Linked DNA regions of Homo sapiens. Changing the gene in region 1 together with any one later gene gives a genetic interaction. Each region holds a gene or a part of one and is shown on either strand. Other genes may lie near its edges.

What was found.
Region 2: changes in G6PC1 (region 1) and NF1 together harm fitness more than expected from each alone (negative genetic interaction), as found in Homo sapiens cells (one large-scale study listed by BioGRID).

The regions. Positions count from the first base shown.
Region 1 is NC_000017.11:42,903,484-42,907,305, forward strand, and holds part of G6PC1 (glucose-6-phosphatase catalytic subunit 1), read left to right. Parts: intron 1-447; coding exon 448-557; intron 558-3,822.
Region 2 is NC_000017.11:31,370,655-31,374,476, forward strand, and holds part of NF1 (neurofibromin), read left to right. Parts: intron 1-3,358; coding exon 3,359-3,501; 3' UTR 3,502-3,822. UniProt on the Homo sapiens protein: Stimulates the GTPase activity of Ras. NF1 shows greater affinity for Ras GAP, but lower specific activity. May be a regulator of Ras activity.

The DNA.
Region 1 (3,822 bases):
TGGGAGGATTGCCTGAGTTCAGGAGATGGAGACCAGCCTGGGCAACATGGTGAAACCCCGTCTCTACTAAAAATACAAAAACTAGCTGGATGTGGTGGCACACACCTGTAGTCCCAGCTATTCAGGAGGCTGAGGTGGGAGGATCCCAGGAGGTAGAGGTCACAATGAGCCGAGATTGCGCCACTGCACTCCAGGCTGGGTTACTGAGCCAGATCCTGTCTCAAAAAAAAAAAAGATAATACATTCAAACAGTTCAAAATGCAAAAGTTACATACATAAGGAAGTGTCATGAAATATCTCCCTCTCACACTTCTCCCCAGCCACCCAGTTCTCCCTTCTAGAGGCAACATGTGAAATCCTTCTCAGGCTACACTCTTCTTGAAGGTGTAGGCTTTGGGCAAAAGCATTCATTCAGTAACCCCAGAAACTTGTTCTGTTTTTCCATAGGATTCTCTTTGGACAGCGTCCATACTGGTGGGTTTTGGATACTGACTACTACAGCAACACTTCCGTGCCCCTGATAAAGCAGTTCCCTGTAACCTGTGAGACTGGACCAGGTAAGCGTCCCAGCCCCTGCAGACAGAAGCTGAGTGGACCTCGTTTACCTGTTATGGATGAAACTGACCTTGAGGGGACATGAGGAGAGCCATTCCTTTGTACTTTTGTCATGCTCTTCAATTGGCACAAATTAATTCACTTCTGCAATACTTTCCTGAATAGCACAGTAGTATTGGAAATCTGCCTATTACAGAACCTGGATGGAGTCCAGAGAGGCACGGGCATCCATGGGCAAAGGGCTCGTGAGAGTCACCGCCCTGCAGCGCTGTGTCCTGAGAAAGGAGGGGGCAGAAGCCTGAGCTTCTGGGGGTCCTTCCCAATGGCCTGGCCCACTGGATGTGCCCTCCTGAGCTGACCGTCCAATCCCTTGCCCTCTCTGTGCCTACGTTTTATTAGTTACAGCCAGATGGTTACTGTCAAATCAAATGATAGATTTCATTTTCAGTATGTAATAGGAAGCCCCTCCCTCACCCTAAAGTCTCAGCTGCCCTCTAAGACTAGTACTCTCTAAGGTACTAGTATCCCTTCCTCAGAGACCCTTTCCCTGACCCCAAAACTAGGGAAGGTCCCTTAGTTATTTGCTCTCACAGACCACGCATTTACCTCAGAGCATATTCACTCATTCAGCTGTTACTTACCAAGCACCTACTGGGAGCTATACACTGTTCTATGTGCTAGGGATACCTCTGTCAGTGAACAACACAGACACAAAGATCCCTGCCCTTGTGGAGCTGAAATCTGAATAGAGGAGGTGAAATATACAAAAATTATAATAAATAAGTAAACTAGGCCAGTTGTGGTTGCTCATGCCTGTAATCCCAGCACTTTGGGAAGCCAAGGTAGGTAGATCACCTGAGGTCAGGAGTTCAAAACCAGCCTGGCCAACATTGCAAAATCCTGTCTTTACTAAAAATGGAAAAATTGGTCAGGCGTGATGGCACACGCCTGTAGTCTCAGCTACCTGGGAGGCTGAGGCAGGAGAATCGCTTGAACCTGGGAGGCAGAGGTTGCAGTGAACCGAGATCGGACCACTGCACTCCAGCCTGAATGACAGAACGAGACTCTGTCTCAAAAAAAAAGTAAACTATTAATATGTAGGATAGGCCAGGCACGGTGGCTCACCCTGTAATCCCAGCACTTTGGGAGGCTGAGGCGGGTGGATCACCTGAGGTGAGGAGTTCAAGACCAGCCTGGCCAACATGGCAAAACCCTGTCTCTACTAAAAATACAAAAATTAGCTGGGTGTCCTGGTGCATGCCTGTAATCTGAGCTACTCAGGAGGCTAAGGCAGGAGAATCGCTTGAACCTGGGAGGTGGTGAGCCAAGATTGCGCCATTGCACTCCAGCCTGGGCGACAAAATGAGACACCATCTGAAAAAAAAAAAAAAATATATATATATATACACACACACACACACACACACACACACACACATATAATACTAGAAAATGATTGTTTATAGGCAAAAAAAAAAAAAAAGAAGAAGAAGAAGAAAAGGAAAGGAGAAGGAAAGAAGGACCAAACATCTTTTGTAGAAATATGTTTGCTTTCATCATAACAGCTTGTTATCAAGGATGAATTTCTCCCTGAAATTAATGGAGGCACAGACTGGAAAGTTTAAAGTGGCTTTAAGAGGTTATTTTATTTAGTCCTCTGTCTTAATAGAAGCAAATTATTATCTCTGCTCCTTAGGTAGAGTAGCTAAGGCTCAGAAAGTAGGCCGGGCGCGGTGGCTCACGCCTGTAATCCTAGCACTTTGGGAGGCCAACGCAGGTGGATCACCTGAGGTCAGGAGTTTGAGACCAGCCTGGCCAACATGGTGAAACCTCGTCACTAATAAAAAAATACAAAAACTTAGCCAGGCATGGTGGCGGGCGCCTGTAATCCCAGCTACCCAGGAGGCTGCGGCAGGAGAATCACTTCAACCCGGGAGGCAGAGGTTGCAGTGAGCTGAAATCACACCACTGCACTCCAGCCTTGGTGACAGAGAAAGATTCTGTCAGGAAAAAAAAAAAAAAGTTTAAATGAATTACCCAAGGTATATAATTGTTAGTGTTAGAAGGAAGAAGAAGGGAGGGAGGAAGGAAGGGAGAAAGAAAGGGAAGGAGGAAGGGAGGGAGGGAAGAAAGCCTTTATTTATCTATGGGGTTCCCTGGAAAGCAGGCTGAAATGGAGATTCACGTGCAGGAGTTTAGATACTCTGGGGAACTATACTTGTAGAAGGGAAGGAACAGGAACAGGGCAGAAGGAGAGGTCCGGTTGTGATTCTGCCTCATCCAACCCCACAGCGAGCTCTGAAGCTGGGGATGGCTCCTCAGAGTTGGTCCAAGTTGGGACAAGGGAATCAGACCCTGGGGAGAGCGTAACCTTGATCAAGGCGACTCTCTTTAGCCCAGGGCAATGCCAGGAGAAGGCTGAGAGCAGAAAGCCATCTACCATCACACTCTCAACAGCTACGAAATAAGTCCTGCAGTTCAGGAGGGAGGTCTGGGCGGCACATCTCAGGACCCTCTATCTCTCAGGGTAGAGGAATTAAGAATGGGATGGGAACCAGACGGGCCATGGTGGCTCACACCTATAATCCCAACACTTTGGGAGGCCAAGGGTAGGAGGATTGCTTGAGCCCAAGAGTTCAAAACCAGCCTGGGCAAAAACAATCAAACAAACAAACAAAACACATTTAAAAAATTTGCTGTGTGTGGTGGTGTGCACCTGTGGTCCCAGCTACTCAGGGGGCTGAGGTGGGAGGATTGCTTGAGTCCAGGAGGTCGAGGCTGCAGTGAGCTATGATCATGGCACTGCATTGCAGCCTAGGAGACAAAGCAAGACACTGTCTCTAAAAAAACAAAAAACAAACAAATAAAAAAACGGAACCGGTTGCAAGCAGGGTTAAATAGCGTGGTCAGAGTAGGACTCACTGAGAATATGAGATCTGAGTCAAGTCTTCAAGGATGTGAGGAAGTAAGTTTCTGGCAGAAGAGCTGTGAAGGGCTGTCTGGCCAGAGAAGATTGCAATGCAAAAGCCCTGAGGTGGGAACGTGTTTGGTGTGTTTAAAGGAAAGCAATGAGGCCAGTGTAGCCAGAACAGAGTGTGCAAGGAGAGAAGGAACAGAAGATGTGGAGGGCAGATCAGTTTGTAATTGTACGCCCAGTATGCTGATTCTTTGTGTAATCTCCAGACTGTATTAAACTGCAAGAGCAGGGCCCCTCTCTGGCTTTGCTCATCATTGTATTCCCAGAGCCTTGCACAATGCTTGGTGCAT
Region 2 (3,822 bases), about 12 Mb from region 1:
CACTGTGCCCAAACAGAAGCATTGCCACCCATGTCATGACTGTTTTCCCCTCAGAGTAGGCCATGGTCTAGTAGTAGCAAGACACACAAGAACGAGCCCCAGGGTAGCAGATTGCTGGCAGAGAGTCACAGGGCCTTCCTAGTGGTCATCCATGCTTCATGCCCCTCCTGCATGCGGGCCAGCTCCAAGTTGTTTCAAACCTTTGTCTTTTTAAGGTCCTAGTTTTGCCTGAATCTTATTTTCTATTAAAGAAACAACTCAGAATTACTGGACTTGAAACTTGTAGGCCAAATGCAAATTTGAGGAAATGGAAGGTCAAATACGCTGACAAATTCATAATTTTAAGTGGAGGATGCCAAAGGGAAAAAAAAAAGTTCTATCTTTTCAACTAAAAATATTATACCACTCTCTGGAGATCAGGGATTGCATGCTTTGGGGCTCTGAATTACAGGTATCTAGCTATCACATTTTAAAATGGAAGTGTTCAGTTCATTCAGTATTAATTGAAAATAATTTTTCAATGTATTGAAAAAATAACTAGATTTTACAGGAAAACAAAAATGAATAATAATGATCTTTACCCTTCTCAGTGCCTTTACTCAGTAGAGGAAGATGGATGTACAAGTTGTAGAATCATAGGCAAGTTAATTTAAAAGCAAGGAAGGAGAAAGTAGTTCTGGCAAGAGACAGAATAATGCATCATGAAGGAAAAGGATATGAGAAAAAAAAATATGGGTTGAATTTTATCTTGTAGAGATACGCAAGACAATTAAAAGAGCCTACACAAACATACATCCCAAAGAAGCTCAAGGCACATTCCAGAGATCATGAGCAGCTTTCTTTCAGTTTTGTTATTTCTTTTGTAAATAGCTCTGGAGAGGATGCAAATAAATATACAGAAGAGAATTTAAATAGACCAGAATTCTGTTACCCAGAGAAAAGTTCCATGAATGTTTCTAGTCATCTTTCTATGCATATGATTAGATTAGATTAGATTAGAACATGACTAGCCTTAAAAAATTTAATAAGGGTTTTAAAAAAGATTTGAATAGAACAGATTTTCAGTGGTGGTTCAGCTATGCTCACCTCCTGGAGAAATGTCGCTGATGTTTTTCCTTGCACTCATATGCCTGATGCAGTGCACATGTTCATAAACAGTCACTGACAAATGCCCATGTTCCTTTGACAGCAGTTCAGATTTTCAAGACAGCAAATCTCTGTTGAGCACGTGTAAACCAGGCCACGTGCTTACAGATGCCTGATACTCTTGAGTCGAATTCAGAGCTGAATCCAAATGAAAGATGAGTGGCTCCTAGAGGGAGGTCATCCCAAGTTCATTTCCTGTTCATGAGCCAACAAATAACTAACTGGGTAGATCTATGTACATTTTCTGTAACATAATGAATACTTCTTGACTTGAAATATTACTTTTTGTCCAAAAATGGAAATTTTTCTATTCTAAGATTTAAAATTTCAATATATAAAGAAGAATAAAGTACAAATTAGCTGAAATCTTGCCATACAGAGGTAAAATATATTTTTTAGTCCTTTGGCTTCTGACAGAGATAAAATATTTTGGCAGATGTTTACCCAGCCCTACGCCCTCTCCCCACAGTGTGTGGGTGTTTTTTTCCTACTCCAAAAATTGTGGTCATCTTTTTGTATCAGTAAATATCAATCAGTAATGTACATTTTGATACAAATTACTAAAACGTTCTGCAGCTGTTTGCTTTCCCGCCAAAATTTATGCCAGCAGTAAGTATAATCAGTCTAATTTTGGGGGTAAATTTTATTGATGTTTAACAGAAAAGTTCACAAATTGCAAGTTTTCAGCTTAGTGAACTTTTAAAATGTAAACACACTTGAAAATCCATCATCTACATCAAGAAACAGAACATTACCAGCATCCCAAGAAGCCATCCTCATGCCCCCTTAAGTCACTACTTCCGCAAGGGTGACCACAGTCCTGTTACCCAATTTGTAATCTTTCCTAATGTGATAGATAAAAATAAAAATCTTATTTTAGTTTCTGGTTACTTTTCTGAAGTTACTGCTTAGATTATTTATAATATTAATTGGGGTGGGGTGCAGTGGCTCATGCTTGTAATCCCAGAACTTTGAGAGGCCAAGATGGAAGGATTGCTTGAGACCAGGAGTTCAAGACCAGCCTTGGCAACATAGTGAGACTCTATCTCTAGACAGAATTTTAAAATTAGCTGGGCATGGTGGCATGCACCTGTAGTCCTAGCTGTTTGGGAGGCTGAGGCGAGAGGATAGCTTGAGCCTGGAAGTTCAAGGTTATAGTGAGCTATGATCACACCACTGCACTGCAGCCTGTGCAACAGGGCAAGACCCTGTCTCTAAATAAATAATCAATCATTGTTAGGCCCAGGTTTTGGAGGTTTAATCTCCTCCTCAAGAGAAATAAATGGCATCTGTTTAAGGTTGCAGAATGTGAAATGACTTGGCATAGCTGAAAAGAAGCAAAGATTCTACAGTATGACCTTTGTGATATATTATTTTCTCAGTAAATAGTTTCTTTGGGATAGGCACTGTGATTAAAAAAATAAAAGCATCTTGAGTTTTCTTTGAAGTGACAAATTTGCTGGAAAGATCAGTACTTTCTGCTGCTGGAGAGTATATTCTGTTTATAAACATGAATGAGGATGTGAATAAGGCTAGAAGATGACCTCTGCTGGAAGTTTCTGGTATGATTTGGAGGAAGGAGCACTAGTCTTCCCTGGTGGCTGCTAGCCTTTCATTTAGTTCAAGCCTGCCAGCCTCTAGCTTTTCCTTGCAACTTGTCTTTTCATTTTTCTTGTGCTATTTTCTGCTATGATAGCAAACTTTGCATAACAAAATGTGAAGTTTTCCATGTGACATTAACTTAGTAAACATTTTAGCAATTGACTATTAAAATGAAATGTGCATAAACAATTTGCCAGGTTGTATCTTATCACAAATATAGTCATGTGCTGCATAACAACATTGCAGTCAACAACAGAACACATATAGACAGTGGTCCCGAAAGATTATAATACTGTATTTTTACTGTACCTTTTCTGTGTTAGATATACAAATAGTTAGCATTGTGTTACAACTACATAAAGTACACAATATGGTAACCTGCTGTACAGGTTTGTTGCCTGGGAGAAACAGGCTATACCATATAGCCTTGGTGTGTAGTAGGCTATGCTATCTAAGTTCATGTAAGTACACTCCACAATATTTGCACAGACAAAATCGCCTAATGATTGTTTCCTAGAATGTGTCCCCGTTGTTAAGCGACACATGACTGCAATGAAATTCAGTCCTGGAAGGAAAAGAAGAAGTAACTGGCTGTTCTCTTTTTCTCCAGGAATCGACAAGGAGAACGTTGAACTCTCCCCTACCACTGGCCACTGTAACAGTGGACGAACTCGCCACGGATCCGCAAGCCAAGTGCAGAAGCAAAGAAGCGCTGGCAGTTTCAAACGTAATAGCATTAAGAAGATCGTGTGAAGCTTGCTTGCTTTCTTTTTTAAAATCAACTTAACATGGGCTCTTCACTAGTGACCCCTTCCCTGTCCTTGCCCTTTCCCCCCATGTTGTAATGCTGCACTTCCTGTTTTATAATGAACCCATCCGGTTTGCCATGTTGCCAGATGATCAACTCTTCGAAGCCTTGCCTAAATTTAATGCTGCCTTTTCTTTAACTTTTTTTCTTCTACTTTTGGCGTGTATCTGGTATATGTAAGTGTTCAGAACAACTGCAAAGAAAGTGGGAGGTCAGGAAACTTTTAACTGAGAAATCTCAATTGTAAGAGAGGATGAATTCTTGAA